Linked DNA regions of Homo sapiens. The protein of the gene in region 2 purifies or fractionates together with the protein of the main gene of each other region. This does not show direct contact. Each region holds a gene or a part of one and is shown on either strand. Other genes may lie near its edges.

Region 1 (6,347 bases), on a different chromosome or scaffold from region 2:
TATGCACACTATGGCATCAGAAGGCTTATAAAGAAACATTGCTCCCATTTATATTCTGCTGTCAATATAGATGCTTATAAAATTAACACACTTGTATGGCCCAGCGCGGTGGCTCAAGCCTGTAATCCCAGCACTTTGGGAGGCCAAGGCAGGTGGATCACGAGGTCAGGAGATCGAGACCATCCTGGCTAACACGGTGAAACCCTGTCTCTACTAAAAATACAAATAATTAGCTGGGCGTGGTGGCGGGCGCCTGTAGTCCCAGCTGCTCGGGAGGCTGAGACAGGAGAATGGCGTGAACCTAGGAGGCAGAGCTTGCAGTAAGCTGAGATCGCACCACTGCACTCCAGCCTGGGCGACAGAGCAAGACTCCGTCTCAAAAAAAAAAAAAAAAAAAAAAAAAAAAAATTAACACACTTGTAATGAAGCTTCATTAGCCAGTCTGATGAAATATTTTTTAAAGTGTTACCTAGTAGGATAAGTCAATAGAAGTTAAAATCTTCCCAGTAATAAAACAAGATTTTAGGGTAAGTCAGTTTATTGATGTGTTGTGATCCATCACCCAGATATATTAAACACAAAGTACTTAAGTAATTCAGGATTTCCTTTCCAGAAACAAAGCAGGAATAAAAACCACTATGACAATATAAAACCTTTGTACATTTTTAGGTATTTTTCCCTTCAATATTTAAATAAACATGATTTCTTCTGGCATGTATTTAATGTTAAGTGAACATGATTTTAATTAGTCTTTTTTTATCGTTATTTCAGCCATTATAAAAGCCATAAATGTGTTTCCAGAAAAAGTGCTTTTGATATTATTACAGTATTCTCTCATAAAATAGGAGGTACGCTTGTGAGTTTAGTACTTTAGTTGTAGGCACAGCTTGCACATGTGTGTCGCTGATGTGAAACCACTGCCCTTTTGATTCCATTTCAAAATCTGTCATGAGAAAATGAAAAATCAAACATAAATGGAAAGATTCAAGTTGATTACTTTTTGGTTTTGCCGTAATCTGCTGAGTGCCTGAATTTTCCAAGACATCTTACCTTGTGGAATATCACCGTGAAGAACAAGATTAGAGAGATGACTATTTGCGGTTCTTGCCTTGGCATAGGCAGTGTAATGCCCCGACCTCATAGTACCACTGTGTTCAACAACTCCATATAAGGAATAGAGTACCCTTGTATTTTCTTCTGCAACATTCTTTAAAAATGAGTAGAATCCAAAAGTTAGTTCTAGTTCCATTTACACAGATGTCATGGGCAAGACAAGTTTACACTATGCAAAGGGTCTTTAACCATTACTTTGAGAGTGCAGAAATCATTCATGAGTCTACTCTTTTCTCCATACCTCTTCTCAGCCTGAGACACTTCTGTTTTTATTATAAATTCACCATTGTTCCCCTGGTAGAAAAGCTGTAAGCCACAGGCCACTTGATGCAGTTACCTGGCTCAGATACCAAATAACTGAATTCAACTTGCCAGTTTCTTTAGGAGCCTGAGGATAATTCTTAACAACCCTAGCTATTAACAACTCTGAATACCCTGTTTAAAAAAAGGTAAGCCCTGAACAGGAAGAGAACAGTATTTTAGGTTGTGCCAAAAATTACCCCTTACATCTTTAAATGTCCCCAAGGGAGTTGGTGAGAAGCACATTCAACCTCTCAAGTGTTCACTTTCCCCACGAGAGAGTGCACGCTGCTTATTCTTTCAGGACTCTATATGCCATAGGGCTGGCAACAGGAACAGGCATTCTCTGGGCCAGGAGCCACTTTTCAGACAACTATTTATGTTCTCATGTAAAAGTCCGTAACAGGCATCACGGCCCTTCAGTAGTACTGTCTCCTATACTCAGCTTCCCAATCTGTGCCTCCATATTCACTGAAGAACTTAGTACTTCTCCGTCCATCTATGATTCTCACAGGACTTTAAATGCCATTCCATTTTAGTCAACCACACCCAGGACTAGAGTCTGGGCTTGTCATCACTCAGAATTGTTCAACTTCATAAAATTTTTTTTGAGACAGGGTCTCACTCCGTCACCCAGGCTGGAGTGCAGTGGCATGATCTCAGCTCAATGCAACCTCTGCCTCCTGGGCTCAAGTGATCCTCCCGCCTCAGCCTCTGGAATAGCTGGGACTACAGGTGCACACCACCATGACCTGCTAAATTAATTTTTTGTAGAGATGGGGTTTCAGCATGTTGCCTGGGCTGGTCTCAAACTCCTGAGCTGAAGGGACATAAATCTTATTTTTAGTCTTAGTCCACAAGTCTTCTATTTATTCAACTCTCATCTCACCTATTCTGTACTCTTTAACCTAACAGGATCTCCAATGCTCATATTCTCCTCACCTATGAAGACTTTTGGCTTCATTCCTGATATGGTTTGGCTGTGTCCCTACCCAAATCTCATCTTGAGTTGTAGCTCCCACAATTCCCACATGTCATGGGAGGGTACCCGTTGGGACGCAACTGAATCATGGGAGCAGGTCTTTCCCATCCTTATTCTTGATAGTGAATAAGCCTCATGAGAGCTGATGGTTTCTTAAGGGGGAGTTTCCCTCCACAAGCTCTTGCTTTGCCCGCTGCCATCCATGTAAGATGTGACGTGCTCCTCCTTGCCTTCCGCCATGACTGTGAGGCCTCCCCAGCCATGTGGAACTGTAAACCTCTTTCTTTTGTAAATTGCCCAGTCTTGCCCAGTATATCTTGTCCAGTATATCTTTATCAGCAGCATGGAAACTGACATAATATAATTCCCATATGCAGTCTAGACCATTGCTATTCAAAATGTGGTCCATGAACAGCCAGCATCAGCATCACCTGAGAGTTTACATTAAACATGCAGAATTTTTGATCCCATACTAGACCTACAGAATCAAAATTTGTAGGTCTGATTCCCACATACACATTAAAGTTTGGGAACTTCAATCACATGTATCACTTACAAATAATCTCCTCCATATCCAATTCATCACAAAACCTCACCCTGAATCCTATAATGTACCTGCCATGCCCCAAACCCAGATGGCCACTACTGCCAAGAAACAAAAGTATAATAAATGATCATGTACCTTGTCATAGTCCTCAATGTGACCATAATCTTATAAATTGTCCTTAGCGGCCTCTTCCATTATGCCCATCACAGCAACTGGCCCAGACTTTTTTTTTTTTTTGAGGGAGTTTCTTGCTCTGTCACCTAGGCAGGAGTGCAGTGACGCAATCTCGGCTCACTGCAGCTCTGCCTCCCAGGTTCCAGCAATTCTCCTGCCTCAGCCTCCCGAGTAGCTGGGATTACAGGCGCACACCACCATGCCTGGCTAATTTTTGTATTTTCAGTAGAGACAGGGTTTCACCATGCTGGCCAGGCTGGTCTCGAACTCCTCACCTCAAGTGATCCACCCGCCTCGGCCTCCCAAAGTGTTGGCATTACAGGCGTAAGCCACCACGCCCAGCCCCAAATTCTTCAACATGGAGATTCTTTGAGATCCTTTGTGGTGTCCTCACTTTCTACCCCTGCCTCTTCCACTCAGATACTTAGGAGGGTCCTGTCATTGGCCATCTCCTTTTTCTCTCTTCAGACTCTATACACAAGGGATCCCATCTTCTCATAGTTTAAACTGCCACATATGTACTGATTTCTAAATCTGTGCCCTGGGCCCATCCTAACCTCTCTGCTATAGGTCTCAGATATGTATATCCAAATGTTTTCTAGACTAAGCACATTAATTTCTCAAAGGTATCTGACACTCAAATGTATCTAAAACTGAAGTCATTATCCTTTCTCTACCTGCTTTTCTCAACCTGCTTTTCTCCCTATATATCCTATCTCAATTTACAGCACTCCCATCTGTCGTGCCAGGCCTCAGGAATCATCCTCAACCCTTTCTCTGCCACCCTCAGCATCCACTTATAAAAGGCCTCTGCCTCACCTTACAGTGCCAATCAATCATTAAGTCTGGTTAATTCTACCTCCTGAAATATTCCTTCTATCTCCCCATCTCCTGCCCAACTTTAAGCCCTCATCAACTACTGGCTGAATTAATACAACAGCCTCCAAACTCACTTCCCCACCTCTAGTCTTTCCGTCCTAAAATTCAGCCTTCATACATCAACAAGTAACCTACGTCATATGAAGATCTGACCATGCCACCCCAGTGCTTTAAACTCCTCAGGGCTCCCCACTGTATACCTAATGAAGTCCAAGTTCCTCACCATGAGAACCCTCCAAAACTTCATTCCTATCTCACTTCTCTGGCTTCATTTCTCAACTCTCCCTATAACCTTGTACTATAAACTCTAGAACTACATACGTTACCAGTCTCTGGCAATCACCATCCTATTTTACACTGCTGTTTTTACTCCTGCTGTTCCTTCTGCCTGCAAAACTCATTTCATCTTGATTCATCATACTTTTACTCCTTCTTTAAATATAGTTGAGGCATGGTTTACTTTACAAAGCCATTCCTGAACCACCAACATGCTGGGTTAAGTGTATACCACTCCTGACCTATGTTCACCAGCCTTAACATTCAACCACATTAAACAGATTATTCATTAATAGATCTGCTCACCTTTAGTTTTATGCCCTCCGCTCACAAGACAATGTATGCCATAATAAAGGGGATTCCAAACGTTGAACTGAAATAACCCATTCTTCAAAATGATTCATCACTAATCTTCAAATTATAAAGGTACAATGATCAAAGACCCACTCTACTCAATAAGTGTTATCAACTTCATACTTAAGTGAGTTGCTACTGGAGCATTAGGTAAGCCACAATTTGACTTTAAAGGACTTTCCTGAAAAAGACCACTTTGACTTACCTTACATTTAAGGGTGCAAAAAGGAGCCAAATCTAAGATTTCCGGAAACTTTATGTGTTTGTTAACTTTGCGTAGGTTAAAACCAGCCTAAAAGAGAAGCATAACAGATTGACTTCTTTTCTTGGAAAAGCAATACAGGTTAAGTAAACCGAAGTCCCCTCCGACGTCCAAAAGAATATCAACATTAAGTCCTAGTTCAATTTTCTTTGGAGACTCAATTCTTCCTGAACACTAACTGATTCCAAGTTGGTTTGCTTTTGCTAAGTACACATGTATCACACAAAAAACACACACCAACACATTAAGAAAGCTATTCCCAGCTGGACACGATGGCACATGCCTGTAATCTCAGCACTTTGGGAAGCTGAGGCAGGAGGATCACTTGAGCCCAGGAGTTCGAGATCAGCCTGGGCAACACTGTGAGACTCTGTCTCTACAAAAAAATTAAAAAATTAGCTGGACATGGTGGTAGCCACCTATAGTCCCAGCTACTATAGAGGCTAAGGTGGGAGGATCGCTTGAGACTGGGAGGTCAAACCTTCAGTGAGCCATGATCGTGTCATTGCACACCAGCCTGGGTGACAGAACAAGACTGTTTCAAAAAGAAGAAAAACAACTTTTCTCGTGAGAAAATTCTCAATGTTTCTGCTTCAGCCATCCAGAAATGCCAGATTAGACCACAGGTTCTGAGTGCTTAAAACTCAGCGATAGCATAATACTTTTCTGTGAAACACACGCTCTCAGCCTCATGCTCAAACCAAGCTTAGTGAATTGTTAATAAAGGCCCACCCAATTAGTCAAGCCCATACCAACCACAAGAGGCAAAACGTTCTGAAGATACTGAAAGTACTTTCGGAATTTGCAACACAGTTTAGAAGTTATACAGCTATAGCAAAAGTTTTCCAGAAAAGATGAGGTCACCAAAATGATGACAATCCAAGGCACCAATGTCTTTTTATCAAGGGTCCGTAAAAACAAGATGCCACACACAAAACAGAAAAAATCACTAATATTCCTAAGCATGAGATATATGTAACACACCAGTCTTTTTCTTTTTTTAACCTGAAATAAAAGTAAGATGCCAATCGTACTAAAAAGAGGGACATAAATGAGTTCTAGGAAATCTGAGGAGATTGTGCCTCCATCTTCACATGCGCCTCTGCCTAGCCCCTATGTTTTTCCCTTTCTGACTTCATTGACATTACAGTTAAGAAACAACAGAAAACCAAAGAAACAAAGTAGTATGTTGAGACAGTAATGAAAAAAATAGGTAATAAAGTAGGTGTTACATATTTAAAACAAATTTTGGGTAACAAGGAGTACCTGCTGAAATCTCTTTAAATGAAGAGTAAGAACAGGAGGAGCAAGAGAAATTAGCATCTGCTTTTTGGCATTGGTGTAAACATGCTTCCTTTCACCTAAAGAAAAGAAGAAATTTTTAACAGGGAGAAAATCATTTTAGACCCCTAAAGCATTCAGATTTGCTATAAAATCATTCCAAACATCTAAAGCAAGGA
Region 2 (7,767 bases):
GCAGCAAGGTCCCTGCCAGCAGAGGAAGCAACGCGGGGACCACGGACGGCCCCGGGTGCGCGGCGTCGGTGGTGCCGGCGCGGGGCGCCAGGTCGCAGGCGGTGTAGGGCTCCAGGCAGGCGGCGAAGGCCATGACGTGCGCTATGAAGGTCTGCTCCTGCACGCCGTGAACCAGGTGCGCCTGCGGGCCGCGCGCGAACACCGCCACGTCCTCGCCTGCGTGGGTCTCTCCGTCCAGGGGCACTGCTGACTGCTGCCGATACTCGGGGCTCCCTGGTTGGAGGGTTCAGTTTCAGTAGGAAGTTTCAGTTCCAGGCAGACAAGAGGTGACCCCTTCCCGCCAGCCCCCCATCCTTGGCACCCTGGTCCCCCTCAGGGGGCCACCCCACGGCACTCACCGCTCTCGCTCTCCGTAACATCCGGCCGGGCGCCGTCCTTGAGCACATAGCCTGGACCGTTTCCGTATAGGAGGACCGTGTAGGCCTTCCTGTCCCGGGCCTTGCCAGGGGCCAGCCCTGCAGAGAGAGGGGTCCCTGTGGTTGAGCTGAACACAGCTGTGGAGTGTCTCCCACGTGCTAGGCACCGCCACGTTTTGCCTGGTCAGGGGCTTAGTCCGCAGGAGACCCTACAGGGCTGGTGCCAGCATTACTCCCATTTGACAGAGGAGGAGACTGAGGCTCAGATTTCACCCACTTAATTGCTGCAGCAGCACCTGCCACTCTCCCCAGGCCTACCGAAGATGGAGCTCCCTCGCAGGGGGTAGCCTCCGAAGGAGAAGACGTGGGAGTGGTCGGCAGTGACGAGGCTCAGCGTGTCCTCCTCGCTGGTGAGCTGGCCCGCCCTCTCAATGGCGTCGTCGAACATGATCGTCTCAGTCAGTGCCCGGTAAGCCCTGCTTTCATGATGACCATGGTCGATGCGACCACCTGCAGGAAGGCCAGAGGGGGGAGATGCTGAGCCTGCCCTGCTCCAACCCCCAACCCCCACTCCCCAGGGGCCACCACGCACCCTCCACGAAGAGGAAGAAGCCGCGGGGGTTCCTGCTCAGCAGGAGCAGGGCAGCCTCTGTCATCTCCATCAGGGAGGGGTCCAGTGTGGAGTCTCGGTGGATCTCGTATTTCATGTCTCCAGGCTCAAAGAGACCTGTGGGACAAGGGGTCCTGTGGTGACTGGCAGGCTGGGGGTGGGAGGGTGCTGGCGGATGTGCACACAGGCTCAGAAGGTGCCATCTGAGGCCATCTGAGGGATGCCAGGGCAGGAAGGGGGTCATTACCCATGAGATGGGTCACAGACGGGTCCAGGGAAGCCTGCAGGAGCTCAGTGCGGTTCCACACGTACCGGGCACCCTGCGGGGAGGGAGAGAGCCAGGCCTCAGCCCACAGCCCCGAGCCCCACACCTCTGCCCTCCCCCTGCTGTGCCCAGCACACCCACCAGCCCCCATCACCTGGTGCTTCGCCAGCCATTCCTGCACCAGATTCTTCCCGTCCAGCCTGGTCCCACCTTGGCTGTAGTCATCTGGGTACTCAGGGTCTGGGGTCCCCATGGGAAACATGTACTTTCGGCCTCCACCTAGGATCACCTGGGAACAGAGGATGGGGCAGGTGGATTTGGGGGCCTGGCTGGCCCCGTGTCCCCTCCTCATGCACAGCCCCTGACTCCCCTCCCCAAGGCTGTGGGAATGGCCCAGCCTGGGCTGCGCCTTCTACGCCCCCAACCCCACCTCCAGACCCTGCTGGCCCAGATAAGGCTTTTGGTTGCCTGGGTCTGAGCTGGTGCCCCCTCCCTGCTACTCTCTGCCCAGCCCCAGCCCTTGGCCCGGGGGTCGCACATCAATGTCCATGTTGGAGATGAGCTGCGTGGCGATGTCCTGGCACCCCTCCTGGCGGGCCGAGGCAGGCACGTCGGCATCCGAGTACCAGTTGCGGTTCACCGTGTGGGCGTAGGCGCCGGCTGGCGAGGCATGCTGCACCCGTGTGGTGGTTACCACTCCCACTGACTTTCCTGAGGGTGATAGAGGTCAGGATATGCGATAGAGGTCTGTCACCTGGCCCTGACCCCACAGCGGGCCCCAGCTCACCTGCTTTCTTGGCCCGATTCATCACGGAGATGACCTCGTTGCCGCGTGTCGTGTTGCACTGGTTAAAGCGGGCGGCTGCACTCAAGCCAATGGTCTGGAAGTTGCCCTTGACCCCGCACAGGTAGGCCGTGGCTGTGGCTCCACTGTCTGGCACATGCTTGTCTACACTGTATGTCTGGGGACAGAGACACTCTGAGCTCTTCTCTGGGGCAGACAAACAAGACCCTGATCTCTGTCCTCTGGGATTCCAACTGCCTCCAGCTCCTTATTGGAGCCCCAGCTGTTTAGGGTCCCTCCCTCCTACCACACTCCATAGCCAGGATTCCCCTTCTCTGCTTGGAGGACTCTAAGGTAGCCCAGCACTTACCTTGGACAGAGCCACGTACGGGAAGCGGTCCATGGCCAGGAAGGTCTCAGGCCCCAGTTTGTCCTTCTTCTGCCCTTTTAGGATCCTGGCAGCTGTCACCGTAGACACCCCCATCCCTGAAGGAGCAGAAGTGTGTGAGGCTTGCTCCCCAGGGCTGTCCTGGAACCACTGAGGGTCCGGGCGCCGGGGCTGTGAGGGCTGCGGGGCTGGAAGGCCTGGCTCACTCACCGTCACCCAGGAAGATGATGAGGTTCTTGGCGGCTGTCTGTGCAGGCTGCAGCTTCTTGGCGGCACCCAGGGCCTCGGCTGCCTGGCGGTTCCAGAAGTCCGGGTTCTCCTCCTCAACTGGCCAGGGGGAGAGCAAAGATCAGGTCAGCCTGGGCTGGGGGGTGCCCTGTGTGTGTGTGTGTGTGTAGGGGCAGCTGGGGGAGCCTCATTACCTGGGATGATGCCCAGGGAGAGCTGTAGCCTCAGGCCCAGCAGGAGCAGCACCCAGGGCCCCTGCATGTCTGGAAGCAGTCGGAGAGCGGCGAGGCGGAAATCCCAGGTATGGAGTATGAGCTGCACTCCAGGCTGCCTGGGTTTAAATCAGGGAAAACTGTGTCCTGGCCCCTCCCCTTGTTACCACCTTGACCCCGCCCAGCCTCTTGACCTGAAGCCACACTGGCTGAAGGGAGTGGCAGGGTGTGGCTGGGCTGGGCTGGGGCTGGGGTCCTGAGAAAGGCAGCTTAGGGTGGGACCAGGTGTCCCCCAGGGAAGGGTGGGATTTTGGGTATAGTGCAGTGTGCATCCTGCCGCCAGGGGCCCCTCCCCCAACCCCTGCTCACTGTGTCTTGTGTGGAACTAGACACCCTGTCACTCGTTCATCCACCATTTTTTTTTTCTGTATTTCCTGGGAGCTGGGGGCCAGGCTCTGTTCTGGTGTCGAGAGGAGGGGAGGCTGGAAGCACACAGCCCGGGCCAGATACTGGGTTCAGCTTTCTGATGCCAGGAGCCTGGGCCCGGTGGGAAAGGGGCACATGGGGGGCTTTGCCGCTCTGGCACCCCCTTGCTCCAACATCTGGCCTTGGCCTGGACAGGTGGGGCTGGCAGGAATCTAGGCCCAGAGCTCCAGGGCTGTGGGCATCTGTGGGGCCAATGGTGACAACACTGAGTGGGGCCGGGCCAGTCCTGCCCATTGCTTACATGTTGTGTTTGATTGTGTATGTGTTTGTGTGGGTGCACTCGCACTAATGTTTGGACGACGCAGTGGGGGAGAGTCCAGTGCCCTCGGCCAGACAGGCCTGGGCTGGGTCTTCCAGAGCAGCTTGTGCACTTGATTGTGACACCTGTTCCCTTGCACAGGCAGAGGGTGCCTGGGCGGACTCTGTTTTCGGTGGGCCCTGAGCATGCCCAGAACTGTAGCCTTTCACATGGGGATCAGATGTTTTGATAGCCTCAGGCTGAGTTAAAAAGTATTTCTGCAGTTCAGATACCTTGCCATCATTTTTTTCTTTCTGTTTTATTATTATTATTTATTTATTTTTTTGAGACAGGGGCTGGCTCTGTCACCCAAGTTGGAGTGCAGTGGTGCATTCACGCCACACCTCCTAGGCTCAAGCGATCCTCCCACATCAGCCTCCCGTGTATCTTCCATTATGTGAAGCTAATTTTCAAAAATTTGTGTAGAGTCAGGATCTCTTTCTGTTACCCGTGCTGGTCTTGCACTCCTGGGCTCAGGCGATCCTTCAACACTGCTAGGGTTCCAGACTTGAGCCACCAATCTGGGCCCACATTCAGGAGAAATGGATTTGGAGAGGAACCAGAGTGCTCAAGGGTGTGTGACATGTGCCACAATCGTGGGCAAAACAGACCTCTGCCCTTGTGGAGGGCACAATCTAGTGGAAGAGGAATGTTTTTAGAGATGTACAAAGTGCTGGCCATCAAATTGTGGGGAGTTGCTGGAATAGGACAAGGGGCCTAGGAAGGCCTTTCCTAGAAAATGTGGTTTGAAGGCCGGGCACAGTGGTTCACGCCTGTAATCCCAGCACTTTGGGAGGCCGAGGCGGGTGGATCACAAGGTCAGGAGATCGAGACCATCCTGGCTAACACGGTGAAACCCTGTCTCTACTAAAAATACAAAAAATTAGCCGGGCGTGGTGGCAGGCACCTGTGGTCCCAGCTACTCGGGAGGCTGAGGCAGGAGAATGGTGTGAACCCGGAGGTGGAGCTTGCAGTGAGCCAAGATCGCGCCACTGCACTCCAGCTTGGCCGACAGAGCAAGACTCTGTCTCAAAAAAAAAAAAAAAAAAAATAGAGGAAGTGTGGTTTGAGCTGAGAATTAGGGATAACTGGGAGTTAGGCTGATAAAGGAAGGGAAGTGGTGATTGGAGGAGAAATCCTCTGTCCTTGTCTGAGATTACCCTGTGTTAGGGCAGTGGCTGACCCTTTTCTGGGATCACCCAAAATGGGATAGTGGGTGGGTGAGACATGTGGACTGTCAAAACTAGTAGATTCTGAATCCTGTCTCTGCCATGTCCTGCTGTGTGGCCTTGGGCAATTTACTTGTCTCTCTGTTGCTTCTGATAGAAAAGGAGGGTAGTGAGGGAGATTCAAGTTGAAGACAGACAGAGTTAATCATGTTTAAAGTGTTGGCTTTGGCTGCTGTGTGGAGATTGGATTAGAGCGGGGGTGTTAAGGAAGAGGGAGGGATTTGGGTTCCTGGTGAGAATCAAAGTGGCTGGGGCCAGGGTTTGGTGTTGTGGGTGGGGAAGAATAGAAAGTGATCTTTTTTTTTTTTTTTTTTGAGACTGAGTCTTGGTCTGTTACCCTGGCTGGAGTGCAATGGTGTGATCCCGGCTCACAGCAACTTCCGCTTCCGGGATTCAAGCAGTTCTGCCTGAGCCTCTTGAGTAGCTGGGATTACAGGCATGAGCCACTATGCCCGGCTAATTTTTGTATTTTTAGTAGAGATGGGGTTTCACCATCAAGGCCAGGCTGGTCTCAAACTCCTGGTCTCAAGTGATCTGCCCGCCTCCGCCACTCGAAGTGCTGGTATTATAGGTGTGATTAGAAGTGAAAATTAATTGGACTTGGTTGGTGAGGGAGTGGTCAAAGGTAACTCCCAGGTTTCTGGCTTCTGTTATTATGAGTAAAACAGAAGAGTGACTGAACTTCATTAATATATTTTCCATTTGTTGTGGTCATGCAAAAAAATGTTTTCCATCTGTTCCATTTAAAGATGAATAACAAAAATAAACCCTTATTTACTCTGTAGGGATAAATCTTTTTGAGAAAAAGATTTAAAGCCTTTGAGTCTCCCACCTTTCTCCCCAGAGGTAATGACTATCCTGTATTTTGGTTAATCTTGACTTTGCTGTTGATTGCTTTTTACCACATATGCATGTTTTCCTGAATGATATAGTGATTTGTTTAGTGTGTTTTTCAACTTTATATTTATTCTGATTAGGGTTCATTGATAATTTTATTTATTTATTTTTATTTTTTAACTCTTTTTACTTTTTTATTTTTTACACTGTAGAAGTTATCATTATAAACTTTTTCAATCCAAGGGTTTATAACAGTATTTTTTTTTTTTCATTTTCGAAAGACATTTTTTCAGTGTTTCACTCTGTCACCCAAGCTGGAGTGCAGTGGTGTGATCTCGGCTCACTGCAACCTCTGCCTCCCAGGTTCAAGTGATGCTCCTGCCTCAGCCTCCCAAGTAGCTGGGACTACAGGTGCAAGCCACCACACCCAGCTAATTTTTTGTATTTTTAATAGAGACAGGGTTTCATCATGTTGACCAGGCTGGTCTTGAACTCCTGACCTCAAGGCATCTGCCCGCCTTGGCCTCCCAAAGTGCTGGGATTACAGCCATGAGCCACCATGCCTGGCTGGTTTATCACAGTCTTAATAAAATTGGGAAAAAATTTGAAAACCAGAATAACCAAAAGGATGGCTGGGCATGGTGGTTCACACCTGTAATCCCAGTCTTTGGGAGTCCAAGTCAGAGAATTGTTTGAGCTCATGAGTTCCAGGCCAGCCTGGGTTATATATGTGCATATATATATATACCCAAAAGGTAGAAGAAACCAAATGGGGTCATCCACCCAACGAAATATCATGCAGCCTTGAAGGAGGCCCTGGAGAAGACTCTGTTACAACGTGAATGGACGGTTAGGACATTACACCTAGTGAAATATGAAAGTCACAAAAGGACAAATACCGTCTCCTGTAAAATAAGATTCTTAAAAACAATAACAAAAAGGGCAAATGCATATGAACACACTTCTCTGAGGTCCCTAGAGGAGTCAAATTCATAGAGACAGAAGTGGAATGGAGGTTACCTGGGACTGGGGGAGGGGGCAATGGATTAGGGTTAGGGTAGGGTTCGGGTTAGGGTTAGAGTTGGAGTTTAATAGGGACAGAACTTCAGGGTTGCAGGATGAGAACGTTCTGGAAATCAGCTGCACAACAATGTGTGTGTACTGAACACTTGAAAATGGTGAAGGAGGTAACTCTGATGTACCATGTTATGTAGCACAATTCAAAATTTGGTCCAAGAAGAAAAGGCTCCTCCAGCTCCACCCACCCCAGCCCAACCACAGCAGCCCCTTCTCCACTCAGGCCTGTTTACCTCAAGCCCCAGGCTTGGCCCCCAGAATCCAGGGGACCTCACCTGCTGCCCAGCCTCTGCCTGCCCTACCCCACTCCCCACCACACCTAGGGCCTCCCTCAGGCCGAGCTTTCCTGGGTCCTCCTGCCTGCACCCGCCTGACTTCCTGCTGGTTGTCCTGGACCTCTCAGGGAAGATGTCACCCTCATGGGCCCTTCCTGTCTCCTGCTTGTTGCCCCCTTAGTTCCCTCTACCTCCTGCTTCATCTTGCTGAGTTCGGAACATTCTTGGCTAAAGGTCAGAGGAGACTCACTAACAGGCACGCCCTTAATTGATTGATTGATTCACTCCAAAGGCAAAGCCAGTCAGGAGCTTTCCCAGCCATCCTGAGGTTTGGTTTTGTTTTGTTTTGTATTTTGTTCGGTGTTTTTTTTTTTTTTTGAGACGGTGTCTCACTCTCTCGCCCTGGCTGGAGTGCAGTGGCGCCATCTTCCGCACACTCTGCCTCCCAGGTTCAAACGATTTTCCCACCTCAGCCTCCCGAGTAGGTGGGGTTACAGGTGTGCACCACCACGCCCGGCTAATTTCTTTTAAATTTTTTAAATTTTTATTTACTTTGTTTTAGATGGAGTCTCACTCTGTTGCCAAGGCTGGAGTGCAGTGGCACAATCTTGGCTCACTGCAATCTCCACCTCCCAGGTCCAAGTGAGTCTCCCGCCTCAGCC
Region 3 (7,026 bases), on a different chromosome or scaffold from region 2:
CTTTCCCTGTTCCTGTGAGGGAGCAAGGGACCCCCATTCCCACGCAGGAAAGATGATTGTGCCTTCTACCTCCTAACTTGATTTTGTCCCAATTCTCTTAATTTGTTTTCCCAAACTTTCCCAGGAACATCTATCATAGAAACCAAACGGAACAGTAAAAACAAGAAAACCACTAAGCTGCCAAATAACTCCACCTCAGAGGGCGCTGGCAGGAACCAATGAGATAATGCCTAAACTTTTGGCATCAGCTCAGAATATATAAAAAAGCTCAGCCAATAGCTGTGGCCATGCTGGTGACCACAATGATAATGACTGGCAGTCTGGGAAGTGTCTAGGTGGTTGCCTGCCCTGCACAAAAGCCAGGAGAGCATAAAACCCGGTACCTGTGGCTCTGCCACCCAGGCCAAAGCTCACAGAGAGCCGTCTTGGAAGCACACATGGCTCAGGCGCTCCTTCCAGGCTATGCAGGCTGCCACTTCTTTTCTAACACGCTGGGGGAGGAAGCCTTTGGGGCTTCACTTTCTTTCCTGTGACCTACTTACAAAGCATGTCACCCAGCTGGCTCCAGCCTCCAGCAGCTGCCTCTCCGTGGAGCTTTCCAGGATTAATTCCAGGTCCTCCAGGGGGCCTTAAGCTCCAGGATGCATGGCGCATAGCCAACTTACTTGTTTCCAAGTACCCACTTTGAAGATAATCCATGGTAGCAGAGGGACAGAAACAAACACCCCTGCAGCCCAGCGACAGAGGTAAAGTCTGCCTTTTCTCCACCCTACTGGGACAAATCCACTGTCCCCTGTCCCCACAGTAGCAGACAAGCTGGGTAGCAGCTCCATCTACCATGGGACAGCACCTCCAACCATGGGATGGAAGGCCCTGTCACTCCGTACGTTTTTTAAGGGGCATCGGATTTTATTCTCTCCCTCTTGGGTTTTATACAGGGCAGGCCAATGGCAGGGTCAACACACTTGGTGGCAGAAATACCTCAGAAGAGGGAGTGACCCAGGCAGGGTCCCTTGAGGGGAGGGGGTGACCCGGCCGGGCAGGGACCCCTCTGAGGAGGGGGTGACCCGGGCAGGAACCCCTGTGGGGACGGGTGGCTGGGGCTAGAAATGAGGCTGAAGGTACCAGGGGCCATATCATGGGAGGGGGTGGTATTGGGGAGTCAGGTTTTTCCTGAGCCAGGAACAGCTGTTTGAGGTTTTAAGGAGGGAATGCCCTGTTGAGATGTGTGCCCAAGACAGCTTTCTGGAGGCAGTGTGTGGGACGGCTGTGGGAGGACAAGAAAGGACACAAACATGCCAGTGGGAAGGCCACTGGAGTCAAGCAAAGAGCGCTAAGGGCCTCAATGAAGGTGGCAGTGAGCGGGGGGGGGGGGCCACTAAAGAAGCAGAAGCTGCAGGCTCTGAGACAGAGCACCCGGGTGGGGGGTGAGACGGGAAGGGAGGGCCTGGGGCTTCCTAGAATAAAGGAGGGTAGCACGTGTGAGGGAAGGCAACTTGGTGCCCAGCGTCCTGAGGATACGCAAGTGCAGACAGGCAGGAGAGCCGGGTGCAGGGGTGAGCCCAGCACAGGGGTGTGCGTGCAATAGCGGCTGCAGCACTAGAGTCTCCACAGCGCACCAGAACGGAAGCCAAGGCTCGTGAGGCCAAGGACGGCTCAGGGGAACTGCAACATTTAAGGACAAAACTGCAAAGGAGACAAAAGGAATGGCCAGATGGGGAGGAGAAGCAGGAGAGAAGGCAGCTGTTTAATGAATCCTTTCAAAGAACTCTCTCCTTAAAGCTGCACTGTACAACAGAAAGATGTGGCAGTAGAGGAGACCCGGGCCGGGGCCCTGCCTGAGAAGTCATACAGCATAAGGTCAAAGTACAGAGTACTTTGTACTGTGTACAGAGTACAAAGTACAAAGACAAAGTATACTCAAACCTCCTAGGTTCAAATCCGAGCGCTGCCACTTAATAGTTAAGCAACCTCTCTGAGCCTCTGTTTCCCTCCCTGTAGAGGGAAGAAATGGAACAAGAATTAAGTGAGTTCATGTATGTTCAGGTTCAAAACAGTACCTGGCCTATGGTAAAACCTATTGAGCCTTTTGCTCAAGTGCCAAACAGTAAACTCTTAGGAAAAGAGATCTGCTGCTGGGAAAGATGCCAGGACAATTCAGCCAGTGGAGAGAAGTAGTGAGGAAGGAGGCCAAGCCTCCCACCACACTGAGGCAGCAAGCATGCAGACACAATATTCCTGCTTTGAGCCTACTATCGACTCAGATATGATCTAGTTCCATCTGAAACTCCTCTCCTGTTTTATTACAGAAGTCATGGGAAACACTGGAATATTAGCTTTTCTTCACTTGACAACAAAGTTTGATGAGACCAACATATTCTATGGGCCAGAGAGTAAATATATTTTACAGGAAGCACAGTAGATAGTGAAAAAAAAAGAGAAAAATAGAAAATAACTATATATATTCAAGAGGGAAAAGATCATTTCATACTTTGATTTGCATCTTGTTTAAAAACCGTCACTCAGGATATGCAAACCAGAAAATTGCAACTCAAAACAGTCTTGGGGGTGAGATTTAAAACCCCACCCTCACTAGCATGTTCCATAGCCTAAGTCATAGGAAGGGTCAGAAAAATCCCTGGTCACACAGCCTACTACAGAACACATCAAAGAGGAACACAGCAAACATTCAAACAAAAAAAAAAAATTAGCAGTTTACGCGATTCCTTTAAATTGCAAGTGTACTATGGAACAGTTAACTGTCAGGCTTAACTTATAAAAATATAATTTATGATTAACTTTTGGGCATCTTATTAATTACAAGAAGTAGGTCTTTAAAAGTACCCCCTTAGTGTGCAGATGGGTAGGTAGATGGATAAACAGACATACAGATAAAGTAAGTACCCCTTTCAGTACCACTCAATCCATGGTACACACAATCTGAGACGCTCTAAGCCTTTAGAAACTTATTTGTATATTGCCCAAAAACCTTTGCTTTAACAACTCACGGCTCTAACTTTTGATACTCATGCTCCACGGACTATGGTCTCCTCAGCAGCATTTAAAAATTTGCCAAATGATCCTGGAGCCTGAGACAGACTTCATAGTTTTAGTTCTGGTGTTTCCAGTTCCTTTCCCAAGTACACAAAAGACCTGACTGAGGAGTAGGCCTCAATGCCACACTTTGCTCTCTCCAGAACAACTCCTTACTTTAAGGCAAAACAACCACCGATCATCTTTTGTTTTTTTTTGTTTTCTGAGATGGAGTCTCGCACTGTCGCCCGGGCTGGAGTGCAATGGCATGATCTTGGCTCACTGCAACCTCCGATTCTCCTGCCTCAGCCTCTCGAGTAGCTGGGATTACAAGCACCCGCCACCATGCCCGGCTACCTTTTTTTTTTTTTTTTTTTGCATTTTTAGTAGAGACAGGGTTTCACTATGTTGACCAGGCTGGTCTCGAACCCCTGACCTCGTGATCCGCCCACCTCAGCCTCCCAAAGTGCTGGGATTACAGGCGTGAGCCACTGCGCCCGGGCTTGATCATCTTTATATTCCACAGATGTTCACAGAAATCACCCAGTAAGAGTCCTAGTTTATATCCGGGCCTATGGTGGCCCAGGCAGGGTTCTCACACCTGGCTTCACAGAAAACTTACCTGGAAGTCTCATTTCAGATCTTCTGAATCAGAAAATCTGGAGCTGGAACGCAGGAATCTGCATTTTAACAAATACAGGCTTCTTTAGGACACACAGATGATTCTCATGTGTGCTGAAGTCTGACACACACTGGGAAGGGCAACTAGACAGGAACTCAAGGGAACTGAATGGGGCTATTTTCACAACGGGCTGAGGCCATTTAACGTCCTTTACTTCATTTAGCTCGTAAACGAAAAACAAGCTCCTCCATATCCCCCATCAAGGATCTGGAGAAGATAAATTCAACGTGATGTGTAAAGAGCCTTGAGTTTCTTACGGGAAGCAATGATATAAACTAAAATATATCATCTTTTCAGCTACATAAAATATTCTTTTAGGAGTGAAAATAAGTCATATCCCTAGGAGGAAATGGCACTGCTATACTTAAGATACATTCAACTCTTATTTGATGATACTTATACTTGTTTTTGTTTTTATTTTTGTTTTGTCTAAACCCTCAGCTTTACAACATGCAGATATATGTAGATAAAGACTGCTTTCCTCTCCAACTTCTACCAAATCTTTGGTATATACACATTTTGAGTAAATGCTTAAATGAATTTATTCTGTTAAGCAAGACTCTCTTCCTTAAAAACAAACAAACATAAAACAGCCAAGTGCAGTGGAACATTCCTGTAGTCCCAGTTGCTTGGGAGGCTAAGGCAGACAGATGACTTGAGGCCAGGAGTTCAGGTCCAGCCTGGGCAATATAGCCAGACCCGCCAACTTTTTTTTTTCTTTTAGACGGAGTCTCACTCTGTCACCCAGGCTGAAGTGCAGTGGTGCAATCTTTGCTCACTACAACCTCGGCCTCCTGGGTTCAAGCGATTGTCCTGCCTCAGCCTCCTAAGTAGCTGGGACTACAAACACACGCCACCATGCGCGGGTAATTTTTTTGTATTTTTAGTAGAGATGGGGTTTCACCTTGTTGGCCAGGCTGGTCCTGAACTCCTGACCTCAAATGATCTGCCTGCCTCAGCCTCCTAAAGTGCTGAAATTACAGGTGTGAGCCACCATGCCCGACCAGACACCCAACTCTTAAAAAAAAAAACAAAAAAAAAAAACCTACTCAAATTGCCACCTAATATAATGACCCCCCAAAATACCTTCCAGCCAGACCTGTCCTCTACAGACCCAAATATCTAACTGCTCACCTAACATGGTACCTGGCCATCTCACATGCATTTTGAACTCAACTTGTCCAAAACTGAACTTACTCAGCTTCACCTCCCCCTAAAATTAAAAGTCAAAGTACATTTCAAAAAATTGTGTAAGTACTTAATGCCATAGAACTATACACTTAAAATTCATTATACTTAATAAACTGTATGTTATGTACATTGAACCACATAAAACTGTTTTTAAAAACCTGGTCCTCCTCCTTCAGTGCCCAAGTTAGTAAACAGCACTACTACCCATGGTGGATGTGACAGAAATGTATGACTCATCCTTTCCCCCACCCTTTCTCCCAGCACACTGAACCTAATCAGTCCCAGAGTCTGAGAGATTATTAATCATCTCTCACAACCTGTGTCCAGCAGCCTCCTCACAGTTCCCTATATCCACAATGGCCCCCTCCAACTCCTGCTCCATCAGACAGCCAGAGTGAGTTTCAGGAAACGGCAGCCATATCACATACTGCCCCACTACAGCCCTTCAAACACTTCCCTCTGCTCTAAGGATGACCCCAAAATATGTCCCCTGATCTGCAAGGCCCTACCCAACCTGGCCCCTAATGATCTTGCCAGCCCTTCAGTCCTCCGTCCTTTCTCCACTTGGCTCCTTCACCACCAAGCTCTGCCACCCACTTACCTGATTTCTGCTTCCCTTTCGGGTCTGAGCTCTAACGTCACATCCTCTAGGAAGCCTTCCTTGACCCTTACCCCACAGTTTCTCAAGCTTGCCACTGTTGGCATTTTGGATCCGATAATTAATTGTTCGATGGTGGGGTGGAACTGTCCTGTGCCTTTGTAGGATGTTCAGCAGCACCCCTGACTCTAGATGTCAGTAGCACCCTCTGCCAAACCAGCCCCTGGGATAACCAAAAAGTATCCAGACAGCAACAAACGTTCCCTGGGGTGCAAGATGGCTCCCTGTTGAGATCCATCTCCCCAGTCTAGGCAAAAGCCATCTATCTCCCTGCAGCATGTTCTCACAGCATCCTGAACATCTCTTCCACAGCATTTGGCACAGACACGATTCATTCTGTAGTCATTACTGCTTAACATCACCTTGCCTTTCGGGCTGCAAGCTCCCCAAGGGTAGAGACAGACTAGATCTGTCTTGTTCCTGCAATATCACGATGCCTGACACACAGTAGGTACCCACATTACTCTGAATAAATGAGAGGCTTTGGGCAGTTTTTCTTTTTAACACTATTTTTAAATTGACATTCTTCTAGTAGTTCAAGTCAACGCCTACGTTAAATCAGGTTTCTTTGGGAGTTGCTTAGTGACTAGAACTTTGAAATCATGGTAGTAAGGAAGAACTTCCTCAATAGGTCTGATGAACCCTTGAAACTCACAACTTTTCCTTTATCATGGAAAAGATGAGATTAACCTATGGGGACTCCCATATATTGTTCTTAAGAAGTAATCTGTGCAAAGCCAAAGATGGATCACACATAATGCTACAAGAGGAAAAACAGAACATTTGCAAATTTTCTCTAAGTAGTACCTTTATGCCTAAAAATTATGCTTGCTTGCTTGCTTCATAATGAGTCTAGTAAAACACACCAAAAAAACCTGGCTCCAAAAGAGCCAATTATAAGGAAGTGCTCAAATACCGAGCCCACAATGTTTGTCCCGCAGGAAGTTACCAAAGGGGTCAAAGCACCTCCTTCGAATTCACACTGCTATTTGAAACAGATGCTCTCCCTCCCTCCCACTGGCTTAGCTGTTGGCTACTGGCAAACTCCCCTGGGTCAAGTCCATGACCTGGGGAGCCATGCCAACTCGGAGGTCCTGGACTACCTGGATGACAAAGAATCCATCCAGAAGATTAAAATCTGTGCCAGTAATATCTGCATACTGCTTAAGAAATAAAGAGAAGGTTTTAAGAATCAAAAAACACAAAACAACCTGGAATTAGGTCTGACTCTTGGTGTCCTAAAATTTCTGACTCATTGCAATGAAAGGAATCTGGGCAAGACCTGGCTCAGAATGAAAAACCATCCCCAATTTTGGCAGGTGCTAAGAAATACAAAGTTGGCTCACACAGGGAAGTGACAGACAGGCATGTGAAAAATAAAAGCTAATACCTATTATTTTATCAATATCATTGGTTCGAATAAGCTTCTTCTATCAATTAGGATTAGGTTTGGCAATAGGAT

What was found. Proteins that work in one complex are often made in the same cells at the same time.
Region 1: the proteins of ALPG (region 2) and USP16 purify together in Homo sapiens (affinity purification with mass spectrometry; 2 studies listed by BioGRID and IntAct, with this or other methods). This does not show direct contact.
Region 3: the proteins of ALPG (region 2) and B3GLCT purify together in Homo sapiens (affinity purification with mass spectrometry; 2 studies listed by BioGRID and IntAct, with this or other methods). This does not show direct contact.

Annotation. Positions count from the first base shown.
Region 1 is NC_000021.9:29,048,662-29,055,008, reverse strand, and holds the end of USP16 (ubiquitin carboxyl-terminal hydrolase 16), read right to left. Parts: intron 6,249-6,347; coding exon 6,154-6,248; intron 4,918-6,153; coding exon 4,831-4,917; intron 1,208-4,830; coding exon 1,051-1,207; intron 944-1,050; coding exon 822-943; 3' UTR 521-821; downstream 1-520. UniProt on the Homo sapiens protein: Specifically deubiquitinates 'Lys-120' of histone H2A (H2AK119Ub), a specific tag for epigenetic transcriptional repression, thereby acting as a coactivator.
Region 2 is NC_000002.12:232,402,080-232,409,846, reverse strand, and holds the start of ALPG (alkaline phosphatase, germ cell type preproprotein), read right to left. Parts: upstream 3,004-7,767; 5' UTR 2,953-3,003; coding exon 2,886-2,952; intron 2,791-2,885; coding exon 2,674-2,790; intron 2,562-2,673; coding exon 2,446-2,561; intron 2,254-2,445; coding exon 2,079-2,253; intron 2,003-2,078; coding exon 1,830-2,002; intron 1,581-1,829; coding exon 1,446-1,580; intron 1,347-1,445; coding exon 1,274-1,346; intron 1,144-1,273; coding exon 1,009-1,143; intron 927-1,008; coding exon 735-926; intron 516-734; coding exon 399-515; intron 274-398; coding exon 1-273.
Region 3 is NC_000013.11:31,202,969-31,209,994, reverse strand, and holds part of B3GLCT (beta-1,3-glucosyltransferase precursor), read right to left. Parts: intron 3,709-7,026; exon of another isoform or gene 3,669-3,708; coding exon of another isoform or gene 3,656-3,668; intron 1-3,655. UniProt on the Homo sapiens protein: O-glucosyltransferase that transfers glucose toward fucose with a beta-1,3 linkage. Specifically glucosylates O-linked fucosylglycan on TSP type-1 domains of proteins, thereby contributing to elongation of O-fucosylglycan.